2 linked regions of the Homo sapiens genome follow. The protein of the gene in region 2 interacts with the protein of the main gene of each other region in a pairwise test. Each region holds a gene or a part of one and is shown on either strand. Other genes may lie near its edges.

What was found.
Region 1: the proteins of EYA2 (region 2) and AATK interact in a two-hybrid assay, tested with the Homo sapiens proteins (one study listed by BioGRID and IntAct).

Annotation. Positions count from the first base shown.
Region 1 is NC_000017.11:81,118,499-81,130,922, forward strand, and holds part of AATK (serine/threonine-protein kinase LMTK1), read right to left. Parts: intron 11,124-12,424; exon of another isoform or gene 10,660-11,123; intron 10,052-10,659; coding exon 9,972-10,051; intron 9,413-9,971; coding exon 9,294-9,412; intron 9,173-9,293; coding exon 9,085-9,172; intron 8,063-9,084; coding exon 7,929-8,062; intron 7,458-7,928; exon of another isoform or gene 7,379-7,457; intron 6,876-7,378; exon of another isoform or gene 6,778-6,875; intron 6,517-6,777; coding exon 6,432-6,516; intron 6,351-6,431; coding exon 6,229-6,350; intron 4,846-6,228; coding exon 4,696-4,845; intron 4,326-4,695; coding exon 1,703-4,325; intron 1,586-1,702; coding exon 1,438-1,585; intron 1,083-1,437; coding exon 882-1,082; intron 1-881. UniProt on the Homo sapiens protein: May be involved in neuronal differentiation.
Region 2 is NC_000020.11:47,071,074-47,083,497, forward strand, and holds part of EYA2 (protein phosphatase EYA2), read left to right. Parts: intron 1-1,111; coding exon 1,112-1,179; intron 1,180-3,084; coding exon 3,085-3,262; intron 3,263-12,424. UniProt on the Homo sapiens protein: Functions both as protein phosphatase and as transcriptional coactivator for SIX1, and probably also for SIX2, SIX4 and SIX5.

The sequences.
Region 1 (12,424 bases), on a different chromosome or scaffold from region 2:
CCCGCAACTCCCACCTGGCCTCCATCCCTGGCCCACATACAGGCCGGGCCCCTTCCCTGCAGCAGATCTGGCTGTGTCTAGGTGAGAGATGGACCCATTTCCCCCACTCCTGTCACTGGACTCAGGCCAACAACTCTCAGCAAATGCCTCCGAGTCCTGTTTTACGCATAAGGAAACTGAGGCCTGAACAGGAAGGGGATGGCCAAGGTCATGCAGTGGCCTCCTGGTGACCTGCCTGCTTGTTCAGCCACACAGGGGGCACCCTGCACCAGGGGTGAGGCTGACAGGCCCTTCCCCCAGGGCTGCAGCCACAGGCCAGGACAGCTAGGGAAGAGGAAGCTGGCAGGGGGCCTTCTCCGAGGAGGTGGGCACTTGTCAGGCACGTGGGCAGAGGCTGTAGGGGTAGGGACACCTGGCAGAGATGAGCCCAGCCTGGGGTGGGGCGGATAGTGGAGGGCCATGGCCGGGAGCGGTGGCTCAGGCCCCCAGCAGGGCTCCACCTGGGCACCGTGGGGCCGGGGCACCGTGGGACCTGGGTCTGCAGGGACTTCTGGCTGGGAAGGTTCCGGTGAGAGGGCCTGCCGCAGGTCTGCGGGGTAGGGTCAGGCAGAGGAGAGCCGAGTGCAGGGGCCAGGTGAGGGCCAGGTGAGGGTCAGGTGAGGGTCAGGTGAGGGTCAGGTGAGGGTCAGGTGAGGGCCAGGCGAGGGCCAGGCGGGGTCCAGGCTAGGTCTGGGGCCGGGAAGGAGCGGGGCCGGGAAGGAGCGGAGCGGAGCGGAGCCGGGGCTGGCCCGGCCCAGGACCTAGACGGAGGGGCCCCACCCTCGGAGCTCCGTGCCCTGCCTCCCGCGTGCCCTTCTGCCACAGCCCCGCCCAGGCCTCACCTCTCTTGGACTCGGCGTCCGAGTCAGACACGTGCGTGATGGAGAAGCGGGACGTGGGCGCGGGCGACACCGTGAAGCGCGAGAAGGGAGCGGGCGTGGGCGTGGGCGCAGCCGGGGCGGGTGCGGCCGGGTCTAGGGCCATGGCGAAGGCTGCCTTGGCCGTCATCAGCGGGAAGTCGTCGTCCCACGCGAACCCACCACCTGCAGCCCAGGTCGCGGCGTCACTCGCGCTCACAGCCTGGGACCCCGGCCCGGCCCCGCTCCCACAGTCACGGGCCCAGGCCCCGCCTCCCATCATGTCACGGGCCCAGGCCCCGCCTCCCATGATGTCACGGGCCCAGGCCCCGCCTCCCATGCAGCACGGACAAGGCCCCGCCTTCCGTGACGTCACGTACCAGACCCGCCTCCCATGACGACACGGGCCAAAGCCCGCCTCCCACGCGTCAAGGACCAGGTGCTCCTCCCATGATGTCACACATTAGGCCCCGCCTCCCACACAGCACGGACCAGGCCCTGCCTCCCGTGACGTCACGGGCCCAGCCCCGCCCCTGCTCACCCTCTTCCGCTGTGGAGCCATTTGGGGAGCCATCAGCCTGCTGCGGCCGGTTGGGGGCGCTGGGAGAGCCGGGGCTCCCCCTAAGGAACGTAGGGGGCGATTCCTTGGCGCCCGGGAAGGGCTCCCCGAGCTCCCGGGTGGGGCTTTCCTGGAGGAATCAGAGAGCACCAGGTAGCTCGGCCGCCAGGAGCCGCGGCCGCTCCCACCCCTTCCTGCGGGAGCGCGACCCCCAGCCCCGGGCAGACCCCGGGTGGCGGCGGCCCACCTGGTCAAAGAGGTAGACGGTGACGTCGTCGAAGAAGGACACGGCCTTCTTCTTGCGTTCCAGGTCCTCGCAGAAGGTCTCGGACAGCAGGCTGGGCATCTTGAGCAGGCTGCGCAGGTTGCGCGCGCTCTGGCTCTCAGCCACCACCACGGGCACCGCCGGCGCCTCCTCTTCGCTGTCCTCGCTAGGCTCCTGGACGCTGTAGCAGCGGAGCTCCTCGTCAGACTCGTCGCTGTCCTCACTGTCCTCCTCCTCCTCCTCCGGCCGGCCCTCCAAGGCCGCAGGGAGGCCGGGCAGAGCCAGGCGGAGTGGGGCTCTGGGGGTGCCTGGGCCCCCCATCCGCTTTTGTGGGGCCGGCCCTGACAACAGTCCTGGGGGCCCCTGGAACTCAGAGCTGTTGCCTTCTGATCTCAGCGGAACCGGGGTCAGCAGGAAAAACTGGGAGCAGCTGGGGCTGGGCCCAGGCCGCACCTTGGCTGGGCCTTGGGGCTCCGGAGGCTCTGGGACCAGGCCCGAGGGGCAGGTGCTGGGCTCTGGGGAGGACCCTTCAAGCTGCAGCAGTGGGGGCAGCACCTCCCCGGGGCCAGAGCCTTGTGCCTCCCCGGAAACCCCAGGCCTGAGACAGACCTGCTCAGACGGCTGCCCAGTGCTCGGCAGGCCCAGCTCTGGCCCGGGGGCTCGGTCCCCGCCGCACTTCTTCTCTGGGCCTGAGGTGGCCTCGGCCTCAGCCTCGAGGTCTGAGAAGTAGGCAGAGTCTCGGTAGGGATTCTTCTCGTTGAGGCCACTGAGGGAGGTGGAGAGCCGTGTCTCGGGCCCGGGGCCCTCACCCTCTGAGGCCAGCTCCGCAAAGGCCTGGGGCTCACACCCTTCCTGCGCCTCCTTGAGCACAAACTCAGGGGACTCATAGTTCTCGGTGTCATAGCCACTGTCCAGCGCTCGCGGCTGCCCTCCAGAGGGGCCAGTGGCCGACGGGCTGAAGACCTCATAGCCACCATCACTGGCTGAGGACGGGATGTCCAGGGAGTCCAGGGAGTCGGGGGTCCCCACCTGCTTCTGCAGAGAGCGGAAGGCTGGCACCACATCCGGCCTCCTGGCCTGCAGGCCGTCGCTGGACGTGTCGGTGAAGATGCCTGAGGTGGCCTCGGCCGTGTCCTCATCCTCACTGCTGGGTGCCTCCACCTCGGGAGAGCTGCTGCTGCCATTCAGGGCAGAAGCCAGCTTGATGGCAGACACCTCGCCACCAGTAGCAGGCGTGGGAGAGTCAGGCAGGGCATCAGGGGCGTCGGGGGCACTGGCCTCCTCCGAGGGAAGTGGGGCTCCCTCCTGGGATGGGGAGGGGACGGAAGGAAGGGGCAGGCGGGGTCCGGTAGTGCCCTCAGCCTCCGTGGCAAGCTTGGGCTCTGCCTGCGGGTGGTCACCCCCACTACTGGCTGTCTCTGTCCAGGAGGGTGTAACCAGGCAGGGAGCAGGTGCCAGGCCCTGGGCAGAGCATAGATGAGGGAGGCCGGGGCAGCAGCCTGGCTCCTGGGCAGAGGCTGCCTGGAGCCCAAGCAGAGGCTCTCCAGGGTACCCCGGCTCGGGGGAGGCCCGTGGGGTCTGCTTTGGACTGGGGCAGCCCTCAGCGTGGCCGCCCGCAGAGACGGGGTCCCAGGACTCTGGACAGCGGCTGCCGCTGTTGTTGTTGGCTGACACGTTGGAGCGCCAGTGCCCGCGCTGGGCGGCCCTCCGCGCTCCCACCTCCTCTAGCTCATCCTCGCCAGTCAGCGGCAGCGGGGGCGCCCCTGAGCTCCCCAAAGGGGACGTGCCCAGTGGGTCCTCGAAGAAGGCAGGACAGAAGGCGGCCACGCCCCAGTCTGCATCCTCCGCTCCTCCCTCCGCCAGACTCAGGGGCCCCGCCGAGGGCGAGGGAGAGCGTGAGGGGCAGAGCGGGTCCCGCGCCAAGCTTCTGCGAGGGTAGTGGTCGCCGCGGCCCCAGGGGACGTCGACGGGTGGCCCGTGGCCCAGCAGCGGCTCCATGGCCAGCGAGGCGGCGGTGCTGCCGTCAGAGTCGTCGTCCTGGTCCGCGGTGGCAGGTGGACTGGGGGCGCAGCCGGCGCAGTCAGGGTCGTGGCCGGCGGCGGGTGCGGCCTCCTCTAGGCGGATGAAGTACTCGCTGCCCAGCGACGGGCTGTGCGCGCTGAGCACCGGAACCACGCCCGGGGGCGCGCCGTCGGGGGCGCACAGCTCCTGCAGGCGTGCGGTGCGGCCAGGGCTCAGCGTGGCCGGGAAGGCCTCCGCGCCGCGGCCCGCCTCCCACTTGTACTCAAAATTGAGGCCTCGGCTGGTCTCGGTCACCGTCAGCACGTCGTCGCCGTCCGCGTGGAAGCCGTCGCCCGCGAACTGCTCCAGCAGCGGGAAGGACGAGGCAGCGGCGAGCTCCACCACGCCGCCCAGCATGGGCCCCGCCGCACCGGGCCCGGGCCCCACGCCGCCCCCGCCGGGCCGCAGAGAGCGCCAGCGCCGTTCAAACTCCTCCTCTGCTTCGGTGGCGCCCTTGGCACACAGGTAGGACAGCAGCAGGTGCACCTCCTCGGCTGTGGGCCGCTGCTCGGGCTGCAGCCAGCAGAACTGCATCACCTCGTACCTGCGAGGAGGTCCCCCGGGGGCCACGTCAGAGGCAACGCTGGCCAGGAACGCGTCCCTGGAGCAGGGATGGGGGTTCCCCTAACTCCCAGTGTCTTGGGGGCATTAAGGGTATCTCCCACTTAATTGACACCCCAAATCTGCCAAGGCAAGCCCAGCAGCGTGGGAGCAGGAGGTGGGCTGGGCACTATCCTTAAGCCTTCCCTCCCTGTACACAGGGGTGCAGAGGTGGCGGGTGGAGGCCCTACCAGAGGGGAGGGGAGACCAGGCAGGGCTGGAACGCCAGGGGGTCAGGGTGAGCCGCCTCTGCCTGGGGATCAGGATACCCCATCTCGGCCTGGCTGTCCGGGACAGGGCAGTGGGGCCCTCACCAGCGGTCCGACAGGGTCAGCTGCAGCTGGGGCTTGGGCAGCTTGAGCTGCTGCTCCCGGACCGTGTACGCCAGCACCTGCTGGTCCGAGTGCTGGGGATAGGGCTGCGTGCCCAGCTCAAAGAGCTCCCAGATGGTCACGCCCAGGGACCTGTGGGGCGACAGCCGTGAGCCAGGGCTGGGCACAGCCTGCCACAGCAAGGACCGCGCAGGATCCCCGGGGCGCCGAATGGGGCAGCTCCCGCCATCACGCCAGTGCCTCAGGACCGGGGCCTGGTACCATACCAGCCGCCCCTCCCTGAGGACAGCGCGTCCTTTCAGCAGGCAATGTGCACCCTGCCAGGCCCAAGCCCAGCACCTGTGGAGCCTGCACATAAAGGCCGGGCTGGCCGAATCCATCTGCTTGTCCACTCATTCATTCATTCACTGATGCACTGAAGACCAGACACTGCCCGGTGTGGGAGCTGCCCTGGGGGAGCTGGAGGGCGGGCGTGGAGCCCAAAGCGGAGTAGGGCCCGCACCAGCAGGGGGCTGAGGGAGGGGGAGGGAGGGGGAAGGAAGGGGAGAGAGGGGACGCCTCAGGCCAGCATGGGCAGGGCTGGGTAACAGGCAGGGGTGCACAGAGCGTGCAGGCGGGTAGGGTAACTGGGGTCTCCTTCCCCGTGGGCTGTGGCTTCACCCAGCCACTTTGGTCCCTGGCTGTCCCAAGAGGCTGCAGAGTGAGACAGAGGTGATTTGGCAAGACGTCACCATGACCTTGGCCAGAGCCCTGTGACTGGAGACCCCAGCCAGCGTGCAGTGGGTGGGCAGGCCAGGAAGGGGCACCTTGGTGGAGAGGTGAGGAGGGGACAGTGTCCATGATGGGGCAGTCAAGTGGCTTAGGGGAGGCCCCAAAAGCTCAGGGAGGGGGCCTGGCCCGTGGGATCTGAGAGTTCCCCAGAAGCAGAAGGCGGCCAGACCAAAGCCCGGGAGTGGTGGGGGCGGTTGGGGAAGCAGCAGAGGTGAGGCAGGGAGGGGCGCCCACCCCGGGGCGGACCACTCCCCTGGCGGCTCGGCCCTGCCCCTTCCGAGTCTACACCAGGTGTGAATGAACGCTCCGGGCTAGGCACTCAGGATAGGGGCTTCCAGGCTGCGGCCGTGGGAGATCCCAGCACCACCGTCAGCCCCTCTGCCTGGCACGGCCCGACCTACGCTCCCGTGAAGGCAGCCAACACCCCACCCAGACCCTCTCCCCAGGGACAGGTACTCACCAAGGCCCCCGTCTCAGGACAGACCCCCCGGCATGCTGAAGACGGGCCGTTGGCCCTGTACGTATGCCTTGACCCCACCATGGGGTCCCTGGGGCACCCTGTCAGGGTGGTATCTCCCCCGGTGTGGGGTCGCCACCCAACCAGCCACTTGGGCTGCTGGCGTGTGGCCACTACAGGTGGCTCCGGCAGCCCCCTGACCTCACTACTCATGGCCATGATTTGACATGGGTGGGCAGGTGGCACTCGGCCTCGGCCCCTCACGGTGCCACCAGGGCCGCACTCACCACACATTCCCGCTCTTGGTCTGGTCCACGACGAGCAGGTTGCTATGCACCTCGTCCACCAGCTCTGGCGCGATCCAGCGCAGAGGCACCCACAGCTGGTCGGCAGTCACGAAGTAGTCCTCCTGTTGGCACAGGGACGGGTCACCCCTGCCGGCGCAGGCCCTGCCCCTCATGCCCAGCCCAGCCCACCCCACCCCACTCACTCTGTACTTGCAGTGAGCCAGGCCATAGTCACCAATCTTCACCGTCAGGTCAGCCGTGAGCAGGCAGTTCCGCAGGGCCAGGTCGCTGCAGGCAGGGGCAGGGGCAGGGGCAGGGTGAGCAGGGTGAGCAGGGTGTGCCGGGTGGGGGCAGGGGGAGGGTCAGTGGGGTGTGCCGGGCGGGGGCATCCAGCACAGGGTCCTTTGCCAACACTTGGATGGCTCACAGTCCAGGCTGGAAGGGGCGTTGGAGACACTGCCACCCCCCATCCCTGCCCAGGGCCCTACTCTGTGCCCAACCCTGAGACCTGGGGAGGGACTGTGTGCGTGGGCCTCAAATGTTACAGTGCAGAGGAGAATGGGGCCTAGAGAGGGTGAGAACCTGCCGGAACCCACCCGGACCGGTCCACGCTTCTCCAGGACCCTCTCCTCCTAGCTCTACTACACTATCACTCTCGGCTCCCCAGGAGGTGGGAATTGATGGGGAAACTGAGGCCTGGAGTGTCCCAGGGGTCCTGCCGGCTGCCGGAGTCCAGTTTTAGGGTCCAGCCCTGCCATGCCCACTCAGAGCTGGAGCTCACTCTCACTTGAGCCACCACTGGCCCCAGGGTTGGGTAGGGTCTGGAAAGAATGCAGGTTACGCCTGGCACTACCTCCAACCCAGCCTGCCTTGGCTGCTGGCTTTGAACCCTGCCTGGCTGGTCACGTGGGTGTGAGGAGGCACAGGGTACTGGGTAGATATTACCACAGCTGCCGTATTACTTCTGTGCTCAGGACTCAGGGTGGGGACAGAGGCCAACCCAGCCTGTCCCTCCCCACATAAAACCCATGTCTGCGTGCCAGGGGATCGCTACAGGGCCATGTGTCCTGGGCCTAGGGGGTGGAGTGGGGTGGGTTGGGGTTGGGGGCAGGGCAGCTGGGGCCCGGCAGGCAGGTCGGGAGGCTGGCAGCTGCCCTCTTCAACAAAATCACTGATGCTGGAGTCGCCTGAGTCATCACTCAGCACCAGGATATTGTTGGAGAGGACAGCCGTGCGGCGTCTGGGGCTGACGGGGCCACGTGTCCTTCGCCACTTCTTCCAGCATGTCCCCCCGGGGTCCCCAGGGGCTGGGCATCCTGGCCCAAGCAGGACAGAACCCTCCCTCCAGGGTCCTTCGAAGCAGGGTCTGTCTCCCTCAAGCCCCAAAGCGAGGGCTTAGCAGAGTGTGGGGTTGGCGCGGGGCTGCAGGGTGCTGGCTGACTGCCTCGGGGACAGAGAACAGGCCAGCTTGACAGTACGCATCTCTTCGTCTAAACCTGCAAAGTGGGTGTCAAACCATTGTCTTCCCAATTTTTCAAAAACGTCATAAAATCCCTCTGCATAGTGGTTGTCTGATGCTGCATGAGATGAACCTGGCCGGTCCTCGCAAGCCCCCTGAGGCAGGACCCGCCCTATGCCCTTCCTTCAGGGGAGGGGCCTGGCCTAGGGCTTCCCGGCCGCTGGCCCGCGCCCGCCCTCACCTGTGCACGAAATTGTTGCGATGAAGGTGCAGGACGCCACAGGCCACCTCACAGGCCATGCGCTGCAGGGTCCGGGGGTCGGGAGCCATGGACTCCGCCACCCGGCAGCTCCGCAGGTAGCCCTTGAGGTCCCCCTGCAGAAAGGGGGTGTGGCGCAGTCACCAGCAGGCTGGGGGCTGGCCACCCTGGGAGGTCCCCACCTACCTCCCCAACTCCTCCACCCCTACCCACAGCTGAGGGACAGCAGCTGCCCAGAGCAGCCTCGTGCCCTGCACAGTGGCCAGCACCCAGCAGTTCCTGGAGGGGGGCCGTGTCCCCCAGGGCTGGGCTGGACTGAAGGCTTCCTCTCCACTGCCCCTCAGCCAGCCCCGGGCAGCAGGAGTCCCTTGGCCTGTGGTAGAGAGAGAAACACAGGGCCCAAGTGGATCTGCTTGATGGAGTCTGGGGCTGGTGGTCGAGGGTTGGCCGGCAGCCCCTGACCTGCCGAAAGCCCAGCCCCGGGACGGTCAACGTCAGGAGTCCAGACGCCAGTGTGTGAGGGCCCCTGTCCCGAGGGAAGCCAGCAGGGGATCCAGCCCAGCCACAGACAGCCTCGGCTCAGTGCAGGAGCTGCATATGTGGAAGGGGGTGGGGGGCAGGTCTCGGGGGAGGGGGAGACGGGTCCCCGGGGCAGGGGGGCGTTGATGGGCAGGTCTCAGGGGGAGGGGGGGACAGGTCCCCGGGGCGGGGGGCGTTGATGGGCAGGCCCAGAACTCCAGGCAGCCTGGGGAAGTGGCCAGGCCCAGCCCCCCATGGCAAAAGCAAGCCTGAGTGAGGCCGTGGAGCCCAAGTGGGCCAGTGCCCCCCCCCAGTTGGCCCAGGATGCCTCCTCCTGAACCACAGGGCACACAAGCAGGTGACCAAGCAGCTGGCAGCTCCCCAGGGGTGCAGGGAGCCCCAGCCCAGGCCTGTTCTGTGCCCAGCCCCCACAGTCCCTCCCTGGTGAGGCTAGGTCTCCCCATCGCCTCCTCTGGAAGGTGGTGGGGGCAGGGTCCCTGGGTCTTGGCTTTAGGGAGGATGTGAGGCCCCCAAGGAGGGGGTGGCACCAGACACTGGCAGGGCAAGGGAGGGCCCCGGCTCAGCAAAGACCCCAGCATCCCCCCGGGCAGCAGCTCACCAGTGGGCAGAACTCCATCACCAGCAGGTAGGGCGTCACCTCGGCGCACTGGGCCAGGCACTGGAGCAGGTTGCTGTGCTTCAGGGCCCTGCGGGAGTGGACAGGCGGCCCCTGACTTGGGAGGAGGTGGGGAGGGGGAGTCGGGCCGAGCAGGGGAGGGAGAGGAGGGGGCCGCACAGCACAGGCCTTTGTGCCCGGTGGCCTCCCACCTGTAGGGCTGCACCTCCTCCAGGAACTGCATCTGCTCCTGCACGCTGGCACTAGCCTGCAGCTCCTTCACCACCACCTGGGCACTGCTGATGCCAGAGTTCACCTCCCCCAGGAACACCTGTGGGACAGACAGCATCACCCACGGCTGCTCCGCCTCCACCGGCCCCGGCTTCCAGGCCTTACTCTTCTCCCACCCGCCCCACGCCGGCCCCCAGGACAGGACACTTCTCCTCCTGTGCCCCGTCCACTCATTGCAGCGTGAGGTATGGCTTCCGGATCCCTCCCGGCAACCCTCTGGCTGTAATATTCTGAGTCTTTCGTGTTACTCTCCCCACAAGGTCCCCCGCTGCCCTCTCTCTCTCTCTCTCTGGGGGTTTGAAGTGAGGAAGAGGGACCCAGGTGTCTCGTTTAGGCCAAGGTCAGGGGAAGGCCATGAGCAAGAGGCTGCTCCTCTCCCTCCCAGGGCCCCTCCCCAGGTACCTCTGACCCCAGGACCCCCTAGGGAGAAGGGGATGCAGCCAGATGCTGAGGACCTCCCTGGGGAAGGGTCCAGCAGGGCCCAGAGACTGAAGAAGGGACCGTCGGGGCTGGGGTGGCTCCTAGGAGGAGCAGGTCTGCAGCCCTGTGTCCCTTCTGCCTCCCAGGCGGGAGTCCTCCCTCCCAGGCGGGACACGTACCTTCCCGAACCAGCCACGGCCGATTTCCTTCAGGTACAGGAGGCTGTGCCGGCCCACGTCTGTGGACTTGAGGAGCTGCACTGTAACCAAGCAGGGGGTTCAGGGACCCAGTGTGGCCTCCGCACCCCCCAGCTTCCTCACCCGGCCCCTGGAGGGGCTGCCCGCTTGGCCTTTTCTGGGAAACTGTCCTGAGTCCCTAGCACCAGCTGGCAACCTTGGGGCCACCATCAGGAGCCAGGGTCTCTTGAGAGCAGGGGCCGCTGCTTCCCAGAAAAGCCACGGAGCTGCAGGATCCATCCGGGCATCTTTCTGGGTAGGTCTGGAGAAGGTGCCTGAAGCCACTGGGATAGCCCGGCCAGGGACAGCAGGGCCCGGAGCTCGACCCGTCACATGGGCTGCACCAGGCAGGCAGTGTGGCTGAGCAAGAGGCTGGGGCCACGGCACAGAGAGGGCACTGGAGCGGCCCACCCCCACCCTGCCGCAGGCTGGCATCCCACGCCGGGCGCACCAAAGGCTCCTTTGTTGGGGGCTGCTTGGCACGGCCCCGCACGGAGCACACTGGCCCATTCTCCCCGAGGGCCAGGCCGGGTGAGGTCAGCGGGAGGAAGGGTCAGTGAGGCCCGGGACGAAGGGGCCAGCGCTGGCAGAGCCCACTCATGCCTGCCCACGCCCCGAGGGATTCCCCGAATTCTGCTCCCACGTCAACTGCCCAGAGGGCTGACAGGCCTGGGTCTGAGCCTGGCTGCCAGGAGAGCCCAGGGGGAGGGGGCTCCTTCCAGGGCCTGGAGACCCAGAGAATGTAGAGGCGGGGCAGGGCAGAATTGAGCGTGTGGGCCCACCGGGTGCTGTGTCCTGAGCCCAGCCTGTCTGGGCGGCCCTCTCTCACCCTGGGGCGCCCAGGCCCACACTGTCCCTGAGCAAGTGTGGGGGTCCTGACCATGGGTGCTGAGACAGTTCAGAGGCCCTGGGCACTGCCGGAGGCAGCAGGCAGCCGTCCTTCTCTGCGGTCCCCAGCGGGTGGGGCCATTGCCCAGGTTTCTCCCCGCTGACCTCTGGGGCTACTTTTCTGACCTCACCCCAATCTCTCTCCTCCCTAGAAGCACATTCCTCCCCCAGAAAACTGAAACCAGAGCTGCAAAAGTAGAGAGACAGGTAACCAGTGCCTTCTTTCGGGCTCCTGTTCGCCAACCCCAGTCCCCACAGCAATCCTCCAGAGGTGGCTCTGAGAATCTTCGGGGGCCAGGCACACACCTGCCCCTGGACCCAAGGGCAGTACCCCCTCGGATGGTCCCTGGCAGCTCCCAGCAGGGTCAGCACAGGGCTCAGGGACCCCCACAGCCATCCGGGAAGGTCCGAGGGCCTCACGCTCTGAGTGGGTGGCTGCAGTCCTCCGCGCCCGCCCACAGATGTACTCGAGCTCAAGTGCCAGCCCTGATTCCTGCCGAACTGGGAACCTGTCCTCCAGGAGATGGGGCAGAGTAGGACAGGCGTTGAGGCCTTGGCTCCAAAGCTGGGGGCTGGGGGCCCTCTCTAGGTCCCAGACCAGTGCCTTGGGCCTCTCAGCCCACGATGAAGGCTAGGCTCTCAGGGCCCAGCCAGGCACAGTTCATAGCCAGCTCTCAGGGTCCAGCCAGGCACGGCTCAGAGCAGGTGAGGTGGCCTGCATGGCACCGCAGTAACAGGCCCTGGTGCCAACAGAGCCCCAACAGGGCTGGCAGGGGCCCCTCCCACTGGCCTGATACCCCTCCTGCCTCTGTGTTCCCAGAGGAGCTGGGGGTGGGCAGTGATGGGGGAAGCCTCAGGCTGGAAGCTTCCTGGGAGGGGGCTTGAGATCTGATAGCTCTGGAGGGACCCGCACCCACCACCTAGGCTCCAAGACAGAACTGGGAGGTCCTGAAGCCTGGCCATTCACCCCCAAACTCCCCAGCACGTCCGCCCCATGTGAGTGGTCGGCCTAGGACCCTAGGATGGGGGCAGATGAGGCTGTGGCTGAGGCCCTGCCTGCACCTGCACTCCTGGGTCAGCCCCACCCCTCGGCCCCTCCTCGCAGCCTGAGTGAAAGGCTAATTCACCACCCGCCCACACGGGCCCCACCAGCGCCCCTCCTCCTGCCATGCACAATGGAACCCGTGTCCCTGAAGGGCTGGCGCTCAAGGGGGCAGGAATCTGGGGTCAAGCATCCCTGGACTGCAGAAGAGCCCCTGCCCCCAGCACATGGCCATGTCCAGGACCAGAGAGCCCGCACCCCTGCCCCAGTGCCCACCCCTGCCCCGTGCCCACCCCTGTCCCTGTGCATAGCAGCCCCTTGGGCAGGGGAGGCTGGAGGCCGAGGGCTGTCCTGGACCCTGCCAACCCCTGGCCGGCCCCCAGGCCCAGGAGAAAGAGGTACATGCACCTTTGGCCCCACAGTGCGGCCTGTGACGCAGCCACAGGGAGTCCAGGGCTGCACACTG
Region 2 (12,424 bases):
GTCTTGGCTCGCTGCTACCTCCGCCTCCCGAGTTCAAGCAGTTCTCCTGCCTCAGCCTCCCTAGTAGCTGGGATTACAGGCACACACCACCACGCCTGGCTAATTTTTGTATTTTTAGTAGAGACAGAATTTCACCATGTTGGCCAGGTTGGTCTCGAGCTCCTGACCTCCTGATCCTCCCGTCTCAGCCTCCCAAAGTGCTGGGATTACAGGTGTGAGCCACTGTGCCCAGCCAATGTTTTAATTTTTTTGTAGAGACAACATCTCACTATGTTGACCAGACTACTAGAGTGGCCATAATCAAGAAGACTGAAACTACCAAGTGCTGGAGAATCTAGAACTCTCGTGAATTCCTAGTAAGAATGCAAATGGCACAGCCACTTTGGAAAACAGTTTGGCCATTTCTTTAAAAAGTGAAACACTTAAATGACCAAACTCCGGGGCTCAAGTGATCCTCCCACCTCAGCCTCCCAAAGCATTGGAATTACAGAAAAATCTGAGGCCACCACACCTGGCCTCAAATTTTTTAAAAACATAATTATTAAGGACCAGGATCTGGGTAGTGGGCACTATCTCACTTATTTCTCACCATAGCCCTTTGAAAAGGACACCGTTTATTTTCTTCATCTATCCAGGAAATTGAGGTTCAGAGAAATTTGGTAACCAAAGTCACAGGTTCCATCCCAGCCTGTCAGACCTCAAAGACCCCACCTGGCCATGGTACCCTCCTCCTGCATGTTCCTCTCCGACTGTAAGAAACCTAACCTGGCTCTTGGGTCTGGGCCGCCAACATGCCATCCGGACAGAGGAAGATCCAGAGACTTAGGGGTCACGTGAGCCATAGCCACGGCCGCATCAGCAAGCACTTGGAAGCACCCAGGAGGCCGTGGTGATGCTGGTGGTAGGCGTCACCAGAGGATTAGTGTCAACAAGTCTCACCTGGGTTGCTTTGGGAACGCTGGTGTGAGGCATTACCACTAGGAACCAGAGCTTCTGCCCAGCTGTCACCCTTGAAGCCACATGGAGGGAGGTTCATGAAATGCTAACAACTGCTTTAAAGAGAAAAAAAGACAAGAACCCTAACCTGTACCCCTGTTCCTCCTTCCCACAGGCACAACAGGGTTCTATCAAGGAGGAAATGGACTGGGCAACGCAGCCGGTTTCGGGAGTGTGCACCAGGTAGACATGGCTCCCTCCCGATTCTTTCCTCAGTTCTTTCTGGAAATATTCCCCTTACATCAGGGCACCCAGAGAGCCCACGACACACACAATCCCCATTGGGAACCTGCCTCTTAGTCCCTGGGTTTGGAGACTACAGGGGCTAGATTGTGCAAAAGGCTGCTGGAAGGACACAGTATACAGGCGGAGACGTAGGAATTGTTAGAAGATTCCTGAGATGTCATGGAGATCTACAAGTATGTTCCATCTTGACCTGGACTCAGGACACCCATTGACTGTTGAATCTGATATATATCAATACAAATGGGTGGGTTCTTTCACCAGACCATGGGCTTCTCAAGGGGGACCGTATATCTTGCTCACCTCTGCATCCCCAGTGGTGAGAGCCCAGCACACAGTGGGGGCTTTATAAATACTTGTTAAATAGAGCAAAGTCAACTCTATATAGGTAAATGTTGGCTAGTACTTTGATTCTCTTGGTGTCACTTACAAAGTGAATTAAGAGTTCGCATCTGCTCAAAGTGTGCAGTAACTCTGCTGTGTGTACACCTTCCCTGTACACCTAAAATTATTTCAAAACAAAAGGTTCACCTGCTTTCAGGCTACCATTTAAAACAGAACCACCCTGGGGTAGATGGGCTTTAGGAATATTTAACATATTTAGATCTGAGGAATACGCAATTTCTTTTCCAGTGAGAATCTAAATAATTTAAAACTTAGCAAATGTAAAAATTGTTTCATGTATTTTTGCATTATTTCTAATGTACTATGTACATAGATAAAATACTTATAAATAAAACAGTACTTTTTAAGATGTGGTTCTTAACCCTCCATTTCACCATTAAATCTGTGTTTTTCAAAAACACTGACCACCCCCGCAACCCCCACCCCCAGGAACTCTGACTCCCAGCTCTGGGGTGGGGCCCAGGAAGCAGAACGTTCCATGAGTTCCGTGCAGGGTTGAGAAGCACTGGTTTGGTGATAGTGCGGCAGGATATTTGAAACAATGACTGTTGGAGAATTGGGATCGCTGGTCTGCTTAAACAAAGCTTGATCAAAGGTGATTGGCAGCTATTGAATTGATCTCCATGACTCCCTCATAGAATATTCTGGACCCCTAATGCTGTGTAGGTGCTGCTGTATTTGCACCTCCTCCCCATGAACATAAAATGTCACCTAGTCTCCTGGGTTTGTGTGTCGTGTGGGTGTGTGTGCGGTCTTCTAGGTTTGTGTGTGTGTCGTGGGGGGGGGGTGCAGTGTGGTCTTAATTGTTAATGCATTTGTTTATTAATTTAACCAGTATTTGTTGAGTTACTGCATATACCAGGCACTGTTTCAGGTGCAGAGGATACAATAGTGACCAGGACAGGTGCCATCAGGGCCACGTCTATATCCCTTAGGGTGGCCTGTGGACCTCCAGGTGCCAGCATCTGCATGCCTGGGCCCAAGGGGCTTTTCTAGAACCAGTGCACGGGGCAGGCAGGAAGTGCCTGGGAATTAAAGCCCCCTGGGTGCAGCTCTCAAAGACCAACAAGTTGATGTATAAACCCCTCCACTCCCTTGACCCGTGGGAGAGGCAGTTCTGAGATGTGGATTTTAGACCATCTCAGCTTTTCCTCATAGGGCTCATCTCTGGTCACTACCACAGAAGCACCTATGCAGGCTGCTCTCCCGCATCTCTCTCACTTCCCCGATCCCCTGCTGGTGTCTCCTTCACCTTCCAAACAGCCTCCTTGCACTTGAATCCTTGCCCCGGGGTCTGCTTCTGGGAAACCAAAATGAAGACAGTTTCTGCCCACAGAGAGCTTTTATTCTAATGGTGAGACAGAGTGGCCAGGCTGACCAACGGCCCGAGCCCAGAAAGGCTTCCTCACATATGTCCTTGGTTTGTTTTTCTCTTCCCAGGACTATCCTTCCTACCCCGGCTTCCCCCAGAGCCAGTACCCCCAGTATTACGGCTCATCCTACAACCCTCCCTACGTCCCGGCCAGCAGCATCTGCCCTTCGCCCCTCTCCACGTCCACCTACGTCCTCCAGGAGGCATCTCACAACGTCCCCAACCAGAGTTCCGAGTCACTTGCTGGTAGGTGCAGTCACTGGTGGGGCCATTCATGGCTGTGGTCTGAGAGCTTCTATGAAGGAGGGACCCGCACATGGGTCCCAATTGTAACAAACAGGTTACCCAAGGGTCATTCATGGATGTGGCCTGAGAGCTTCTCTGAAGGAGGGACCTGGATATGGGTCCCAGTTGTCACAAACAGGCTCCCAAGGGCTAAATCCATCTCTCAGACATGTTTTGTTGGCCTGTTTGTGCATGTGTTTAATTGCATTTACGTTTAAAAGTCAGAAAATTTTATAAATACCTAAAAATTCTATTTTCTGGCTTCTTTTGAAAGAAGATCTGGCCATAGTAGCCACATTCCCAAGGAACACCACTTGGTTAAAACTAAGTGTGTCTGCTCTTTTTAGAAAGGACACACCCAATTCCACATCTAGCTAGCTTACCCCATGTTCATTACTGCCTGGCCCATGTAGGCCTTGGAGTTGATGAACCCTGGTAGTATTTATAATATTACCAGCTGGGCACGGTGGCTCACACCTGTAATCCCAGCACTTTTGGAGGCTGAGGCGGGTGGATCACCTGAGGTCAGGAGTTCGAGACCAGCCTGGCCAACATGATGAAACCCCATCTCTACTAAAAATACAGAAATTAGCCTGAGTCATGGCAGGCACCTGTAATCCCAGCTACTAGGGCGGCTGAGGTAGGAGAATCGCTTGAACCTGGGAGGCGGAGGTTGCAGTGAGCCGAGATCGCGCCATTGCGCTCCAGCCTGGGCAACAAGAGTGAAACTCCATCTCAAAAAATTAAATAAATAAATAAAATACCCATCTGTTTCGTGCTGAGCACATACCTGTGTGGTCTTCTCTAATCATTTACTTATATATTTATTCAACAAATATTTGGTAAGCTCCCACTGCATTCCAGGCCCTCCCTTTAGTTTGGGAAATAAAGTGCAGTGTAGAGTTAAGCTTTGCAGACAGGAATCAAATAATCATACAAATATCTCATTACAAACTGTGATAAGGAGAGGCATAATCCTCACAAAAACAGGTTTATATTATCCCCACCCTTTTTCTAGATAAGAACAATGAAGATGAGAGTGATAAGGAGCTTGCTAGTGATTGGTGGGGCTAGGATCCCAATCCCAGTTTGTTGGCCCCCATAACCAGCACTCCTGCTATGCACTGGCCATACACAGCCAGGAACTGTGTACACAGCCTGGCTGTGTACGGCCAGGAATATGTTATCTAAAATCCGTTTGAGAACAGAAGGGCAGAGGCTTTCAAATGTTGATTCTTTGTCTAAGAGGGGTTCAAGTATAGCGACTCAGGGTCCTCAAGAATTATACAATCCTTCAAAACATCCTTAAGCATGTTCATTTTTTTTTTCTTTCAACTTGTATTTTAGGTTTGGGGTACACATGCAGGTTTGTTACATGGGTAAATTGCATGTCGTGGAGGTTTAGTGTACAGATAATTTTGTCACCCAGATAATCAGCACAATACCCACTAGGTAGTTTTCCAGTCCTCACCTTCCTTCCATCCTCTACCCTCAAGTAGGTCCTTGGGTCTATTGTTCCCTTCTTTGTATCCATGTGTACTCAATGTTTAGCTCCCACTTATAAGTAAGAACATGTGGTATTTGGTTTTCTGTTCCTGTGTTAATTCACTTAGGATAATGGCCTCTAGCCCTATCCATGTTGGTTCAAAGGACATGATCTTATTTTTTATGGCTGCGTAGTATTCCATGGTGTATATATACCACATTTTCTTTATCCAGTTTGCCATTGATGGGCATCTAGGTTGATTCTTTGTCTTTGCTATTGTGAATAGTGCTGCAATGAACATACACATGCATGTGTCTTTATGGTAGAAAAATTTATATTCCTTTGGATATATACCCAGTAATGGGATTGCTGGTATATATCCAAATGGTAGTTTCATTTTAAGTTCCTTGAGAAATCTTCAGGCCGCTTTCCACAGTGGCTGAACTAATTTACATTCCCATGAACAATGTATAAGCATTCCCTTTTCTCTGTAACCTTGCCAGCATCTGTTATTTTTTGACTTTTTAATAATGGCCATTCTGATTGGTGTGAGATGGTATATCATTGTGGTTTTGATTTGCATTTCCCTAATGACCAGTGATATTATTTTTTCATATGCTTGTTGGCTGCATGTATGTCTTCTTTTGAGAAGTGTCTGTTCATGTCCTTTGCCCATTTTTTAATCGGGTTATCTTTAAGGATGTTTGTTTCTGATGGCACAATAGTTTTAGGAAACCCTTTTGATTAGCCAAGATTTTTTGGCTTCAAAAGACATAGAAAATCCAATTCAAACTAGTTTAAGAAAAAGCAAATGAACTTTTAGGCATATCTAACCTAGATGTACAGGGGTTTAGAGCTAGGTCCAGGTGTTCCAATGACAATGTTGAGACTTAGTTTCTCTCTTCCTTCTGGCTCTGAATTTTCCTGGGTTCGTTCCGTTCTCAGGCAAGCTCCTCCCCTATGGTGGCAAAGATGGCCACCAGCTACCCAGAGCTCAATCCTGTCTGCTAATCCATCCCAGCAAACATAGTTCCTCCTTCTTAGCCATTCCTGCAAAAGTCCCAAGTAAAGCTCCCATTGGCCCAGCTTAGGTCACATGCTCATCCCCAAACCAATCTCTGTGGTCAGTGGAATGGAATGCTGGGATGAAGCAGCAGACTTTGGGCTCATGCCTACGGCTGGAGCTAGAGTTGGGGTCAGCCTCACCTCAACCACCAGGGACTGAGAGTGAGGAAGAGGTGATCACCTCAAAAAACCTAGAGCATTGTAACTACAAGAAGACAGAAGAGACAATGGGTGAGCAAAAACAATAAATGTCCACAACCTTGATATGGATGCCACCTACACTATGAGCAACATGTGGCAGAGTCCATGTCCTGACCCCTCTGTGGTCACAGAACTTAGTATGTAACATCCCTATGCAACTAATGCACCAGCCTGTGGATTCATTCATTCATTCCCCAGACCTGCTATGCACATCTTCTCTTTTACAAGGTGGTTTTGGCTTATCAACATTAAATAACATGGCAGCAATACGTTAGAATGTCAGTAGATATCACTGAGTTTCGTTCCTTTGTCTTCTTTTCTGAAACCTACTGATGCTGTAGGGCTTTGCAGAAGCTAAGCTAGCACGATGGTGTGGAGACAGTCATCAACAAATATTAATTGGTTGATTGTTAGAAAAGGAACAATAGGGAAGACCCACCTGTTTTGTTCCTGGGGTTCTTGGTGTGGCTATTGATTTTAGCCCTTAAATTTTCCATCACTGGGAATGAGTGAGTTATCCTTGGTTTGATGACAAATGGAGACAATATGGCAAAGCATGTTAAATAAAGTCAACTTTTTAAAAGGTTTAGAGCTTGAGCATTGATTTTGGTCATTGTGATCTCATCCCAGAATATTTAATGATGCATAGTACCTATTTAATAACTTTCTTTGAAGAGTTTGAAGTTTAACAAAGTTTTTCTCTGTCATCATCTTGAATTATCTTTAGCCATCCTGATTTTCAGAATGTGGTTCTTCCGATCTCATTTCAACAAAGGAGATAAAAACAAAACATTGATGAGAAATTAGGGCAGAGAGGAACTATAAGCAGGAAACCATCGAGTAGATGCCACTATCCGTCTATAATTCAATGGTGAACTGAATGGCAAACGAAAAACTTACCTCCCCAGAATTTGAGTTTTGTGGGAAGGTTCTCTTCATTCCCATCAGGAGTGAATATAAAGGCTCATTGTGTCTTTGAAATTTTTCTGTCTTGTTTCCCTCTGTTCTTCCTTTATCCCTTGATCAAAGGTTCAACAGTAAGTGGTTGAGATGGTTTTTACTGTGTGTCTAACAAGCTGACATAAAATCTAATGACGTAAATAATGGTCAGCTGTAGCTGAGGTCTCCTGCCTCTTTTTCCTAGTGTTCACTGTAAAGGAATTTAAGCATATGTGTGTGCACATGTGCACGTGCGCGCGCGCGCGCACACACACACACACACACACACACACACACATTCATGCACTCTTTTTAAATTTCCCATAAAAACTCTACTTTTGAAATTATCCAGGATATCCTTGAGTGGTTGGTTCCAAACTCCAGAGGCTCTAGAGGTTTACTGACAGACAGATCACACTCACTGTGTGCACTGCCTGGATATAGTATTTTGGTGCTCTCACCACTCACATCCCCCATGCACCCCATCCTCGCCACAGGACACTCTGCATTGACATGCATTAATGTGTGTGTGAAGTGCCAACAATTTGCAGATGATTACAGGGCAATTTGCTGATATAGAGGGCAGAATCTGAACATCTCATGTTACTTAAGAGAAAAACCAAATCATTGGTTACTTAAGGATTTTTTTCTTTTTACATTTTTAAATATGATACAAATTATCTAAAAAGAAGTTGAAGGATTTTTTAACTTCTAAGATCAACTTCCTTTGCCAAGAGAAGAAGAATTTTTTTAATCTCTCAAGAAGAAATTGGGAAGGCTCTTCCGTGTAATTTGGCAACATCTAACAAAATTTAAAATGCATAGACCTTTTAACTCAACTATTCGACATCTAAGAATTTATCCGAAAGATAAACTTTGACCTAGGTACAAACACTTAAGTAAAAAGAATACTTATTTTTTTCACTGATTAAAAATTTATTAATACTATTATGCAAATAATTTTAGTGATAACCACAAGGGTTTTGTACTGTTAGTACATAAATACATACAAAAATGCATTTTGAAACTTCTTGTATCCCCTTTATCCTTTTCAATTTCTGTTTATGTTTGCTCTACAATATATATGATGGATCTGTGCAGTAGAAAATTTTTTGCTGATGAGTATGGTACAATCAGAAATGTTTGGAGACTGTATCAGTTTCTTCTTGCTGCTGTAACAAATTATTATGACCTTTGTGTCTTAAAACAACACAGTGATATTTTACAGTTCTGGAGGTAAGAAATGCAACATGGCTCTCACTGAACTAAAATTGAGGGGTCAGCAGGGTTATAGTATTGGAGGCTCCAGAGGAGAATCACTTCCTTGCCCTTCTACCTGCAGAGGCCACCTGCCTTCCTTGGCTCATGACCCTGCATCATTCCAGTTTCTACTTACATTGTCTCATCTCCTTCTCTAACTCCTGCCCCCGACCCCTTATAAGGACTGTTGTGATTCCACTGGGCCCACTCAGAGAATCCAGGATCATCTCCCCATCTCGAAGTCCTTAAGTCAGTCACATCAAGAATATTTATTTTTTTAAAAAAGAATATTTATTGCAGCAGCATCATAGCAAAAGGCTGGAAACAACCTGGATACCATGCCATTAACAGGAAACAGGTTAAATCAATCATGGTGCATCCACCAGTAGCATACTATACAGCTGTTAAAAAGAATAAGTTAGATATATTTGTGCTACTATGGGTTTCTCTTTGAGCTATTGTGATAGGTTAAAAAAAAAAAGCAGGAGGCAGAATTACATGGGTAATGTGAGCCTGAGTTTTTTAAAAGTTTAAGTGTAGCTTAATACCCATATTTACTCATATTCCATAAGGAATTTCTAGAAGGATGCAATAAGAACTGTTAATAGTCATTTTCTCTGGAGAGGAAAACAAGATCTGGAGTGAAAGGAAAAGACTGTATGTAACAGGCAATCTGTAGAACACTCCACCCAACAGCAGCAAATACACATTCTTTTCAAGTGCACATGGGACATTTACCAAGATAAATATTAATATCTTCTGGGCCATAAAACAAGTTTCAGTACCTTTAAAAGAATCAAGGCATACAAAGCATGTTCTCTGACAGCAGTGGAATTAAATTAGAAATAAATTTCAGAAAGATTTTTGGGAAGTTCCCAAATCTTCAGAATCTCAATAATATACATTTCAGTGACCCATGGGTCAAAGAAGAAATCAATGGGAAATTAAAAAGCACTTGGAACTGAATGAAAATGAAAACAAATATATCAAAATTTATGGAATGTCATTAAAGCAGTACTTAAAGGGAAACTTACAGCACGAAATACCTGAATTAGAAAAGAAGACACAATTACCACAGGTATCAGGTGAAGGAAGGGAGGGAGGGAAATGAGGGAGGGGGGAGGGAGGGAAATGAGGGAGGGAGGGAGGGAAATGAGGGAGGGAGGGAGTAAAGGGGAGTGGAGGGGAGGGAAGATTGGTCAAAGGATACAAAATTTCAGTTAATAGGAATAAGTTCAGAAGAACTATTGTACAATATGGTGACTATAGTTAATAAATAAGGTATTTGTATTAGTCTATCTTCATGCTACTGATAAAGACACACCTGAAACTGAGCAGTTTACAAAGGAAAGAGGTTTAATGGAGAACTCAGTTCCATGTGGCTGGGGAAGCCTCACAATCATGGCTGAAAAAAAGGAGAAGCAAGTCACATCTTACGTGGATGGCAGCAGGCAAAGAGAGAACTCGTGCAGGCGAACTGCCACTTTCTTAAAACCATCAGATCTTGCGAGACTCGTTCACTATCACAAGAACAGTGCAGGAAAGACCCTCCTTCTTAAAGAGACAAGGTCTTACTCTGTCACCCAGGCTGAAGTGCAGTGGTACGATCATAGTTCTCCGTAACCTCGAACTCCTGGGCTCAAGCAATCCTCCCTCAGCCTCTCAAGTAGTTGGGACTACAGGTGTGTGCCACCATGCGCAGCTAATTTTTAAATTTTTTGTAGAGATGGGGACTTGCTCCTCCTTGTCTTCGGCCATGATTGTGAGGCTTCCCCAGCCACATGGAACTGAGTTCTCCATTAATGCTCTTTCCTTTGTAAATTGTTCAGTCTCAGGTATGTCTTTATCATAATTCAGTCACCTCCCACTGGGTTCCTCTCATGACATGTGGGAATTGTGGGAGTTACAATTCAAGATGAGATTTGATGGGGACACAGAGCCAAACCCTATCAGTGTTATATACTTGAAACTTGCTGAGAGAGTAGATTTTAAGTGTTTTTAGTAAAAAAAAAATAAAAAATATGTGAATGTTAATTAGCTTGATTTAGCCATCCCCAATATATACATATATCAAAATATGTTGTACATCATAAATATACACAATTTTTATTTGTCCAGTTAACAAATCATCATCATCATCTACAGGGTTGCTGTGAAAATTGAAATAAAAAGGCCGGGCATGGTGGCTCATGCCTGTAATCCCAGCATTTTGGGAGGCACAGGCACGTGGAGCACCTGAGGTCAGGAGTTCAAGACCAGCCTGGCCAACATGGCGAAACCCCGTCTCTACTAAAAATACAAAAATTAGCCAGGCGTGGTGCCACACGCCTGTGATCCCAGCTACTCAGGAGGCTGAGGCAGGAGAATCACTTGAACCTGGGAGGCAGAGGTTGCAGCGAGCCAAGATTTTACCACTGCACTCCAGCCTGGGTGACAAAGCGAGACCTTGTCTCAAAAAAAAAAAAAAAGAAGAAAGAAAAAAAGAGAGAGAGAGAGAAAGAAAAAATGTGCATTGCCTATTATTATTATTTTGAGACAGAGTCTCGATCTGTCGCCCAGGCTGGAGTGCGATGGTGTGACCTTGGCTCACTGCAACCTCTGCCTCCCAGGTTCAAGTGATTCTCCTCCCTCAGCTTCCTGAGTAGTTGGGATTACAGGCGCCCACTACCATGCCCGGCTAATTTTTGTGTTTTTAGTAGAGACGGGGTTTTACCACGTTGGTCAGGCTGGTCTCAAACTCCTGACCTCAGGTGATCCACCTGCCTCAGCCTCGCAAAGTGCTGGGATTACAAGCGTGAGCCACTGTGCCCAGCCAACCCTGCCAATTATTAAGTAACATGCAAATATAAATAATGATTAATGAAAATATATTTAAGAACTCACTTTAACCCAGACAGTTAAATATAATAATTTTCATCCAAAGATATGATTATTTAACTTAATTTAAAATTTTTTAAAAATAAGAAAAGAAGAAGTAAAACTTCATGAAGTAAAGAGATAAAATGACCTGGTCACCTATGTAGAAAATCTGATGGAATCTATGAAAAAGCTACTAGATCTAAAAAGTAACTTTAGCAGTGTTGCAGGGTACTAGGTGAATATCTAAAAATCAACAAACAACAGGAAATAGAATATTTTAAATGCCATTTGAAATAGTATCAAAGATGTGAAATACTCAAGGTTAAATTTGGCAAAAGATATGCATGACTTTACACTAAAACCTATAAAACTGCTGAGAGAAGTTAAAGAAGGCATTAATAAATGGAGATATATACCTGGTTCGTGAATCAGAAGACTTAATATTGTTAAAATGCCAGCTCTTCCCAAATTGAGCTATAAGATTAATACAATCTCTATCAACATCTCAGGCTTTTTTTAAGAAACTGTCAAGCTGTTTCTGAACTTTAAATGGAAATGCAGAGGACCAAGAAGGGCCACAATGACTTTTGTAGAGAAGAACAAAGTTAGAGGGCTAAGACTACCTGATTTTAAAATCCATTTTAAAGCCACAGTACTTAAGACAATGCAGCACTGGCATAAAAATAGACAAATAAATCAATGGAACAGAATTGAGAGTTCAGAAATAGGTTGGGTGCCGTGGCTCGTGCTTGTAATCCCAGCACTTTGGGAGGCCGAAGAGGGAGGATCACTTGAGGCCAGAAGTCTGAGACCAGCCTGAGCAACATAGCAAGACCCTGTCTCTGCAAAAAAATAAAAATAACCCAGGCAGTGGGTTGTGCCTGCAGTCCCATCTGCTCAGGAAGGTGAGGTGGGAGAATTGCTTCAGCCAGGGGTTTGAGGATACAGTGAGCTATGATCATACCACTGTACTCCAGCCTGGATGACAGAGTAAGACCCTGTCTCCACAGTAAATAAATGAATTAACCCACATGTATATGGTCACCTGATTTTTGACAAAAGACAATTCAATGGAGAAAGGACAGTCTTTTCAACAAAAGATGCTGGAACAGCCGAGCACAGTGGCTCACGCCTGTAATCCCAGCATTTTGGGAGTCCAAGGCAGGTGGATCACCTGAGGTCAGGAGTTCAAGATCAGCCTGGCCAACATGATGAAACCCCGTCTCTACTAAATATACAAAAAAATAGCCAGGCTTGGTGGCGCACACCTGTAATCCCAGCTACTTGGGAGGCTGAGGCAGGAGAATCCCTTG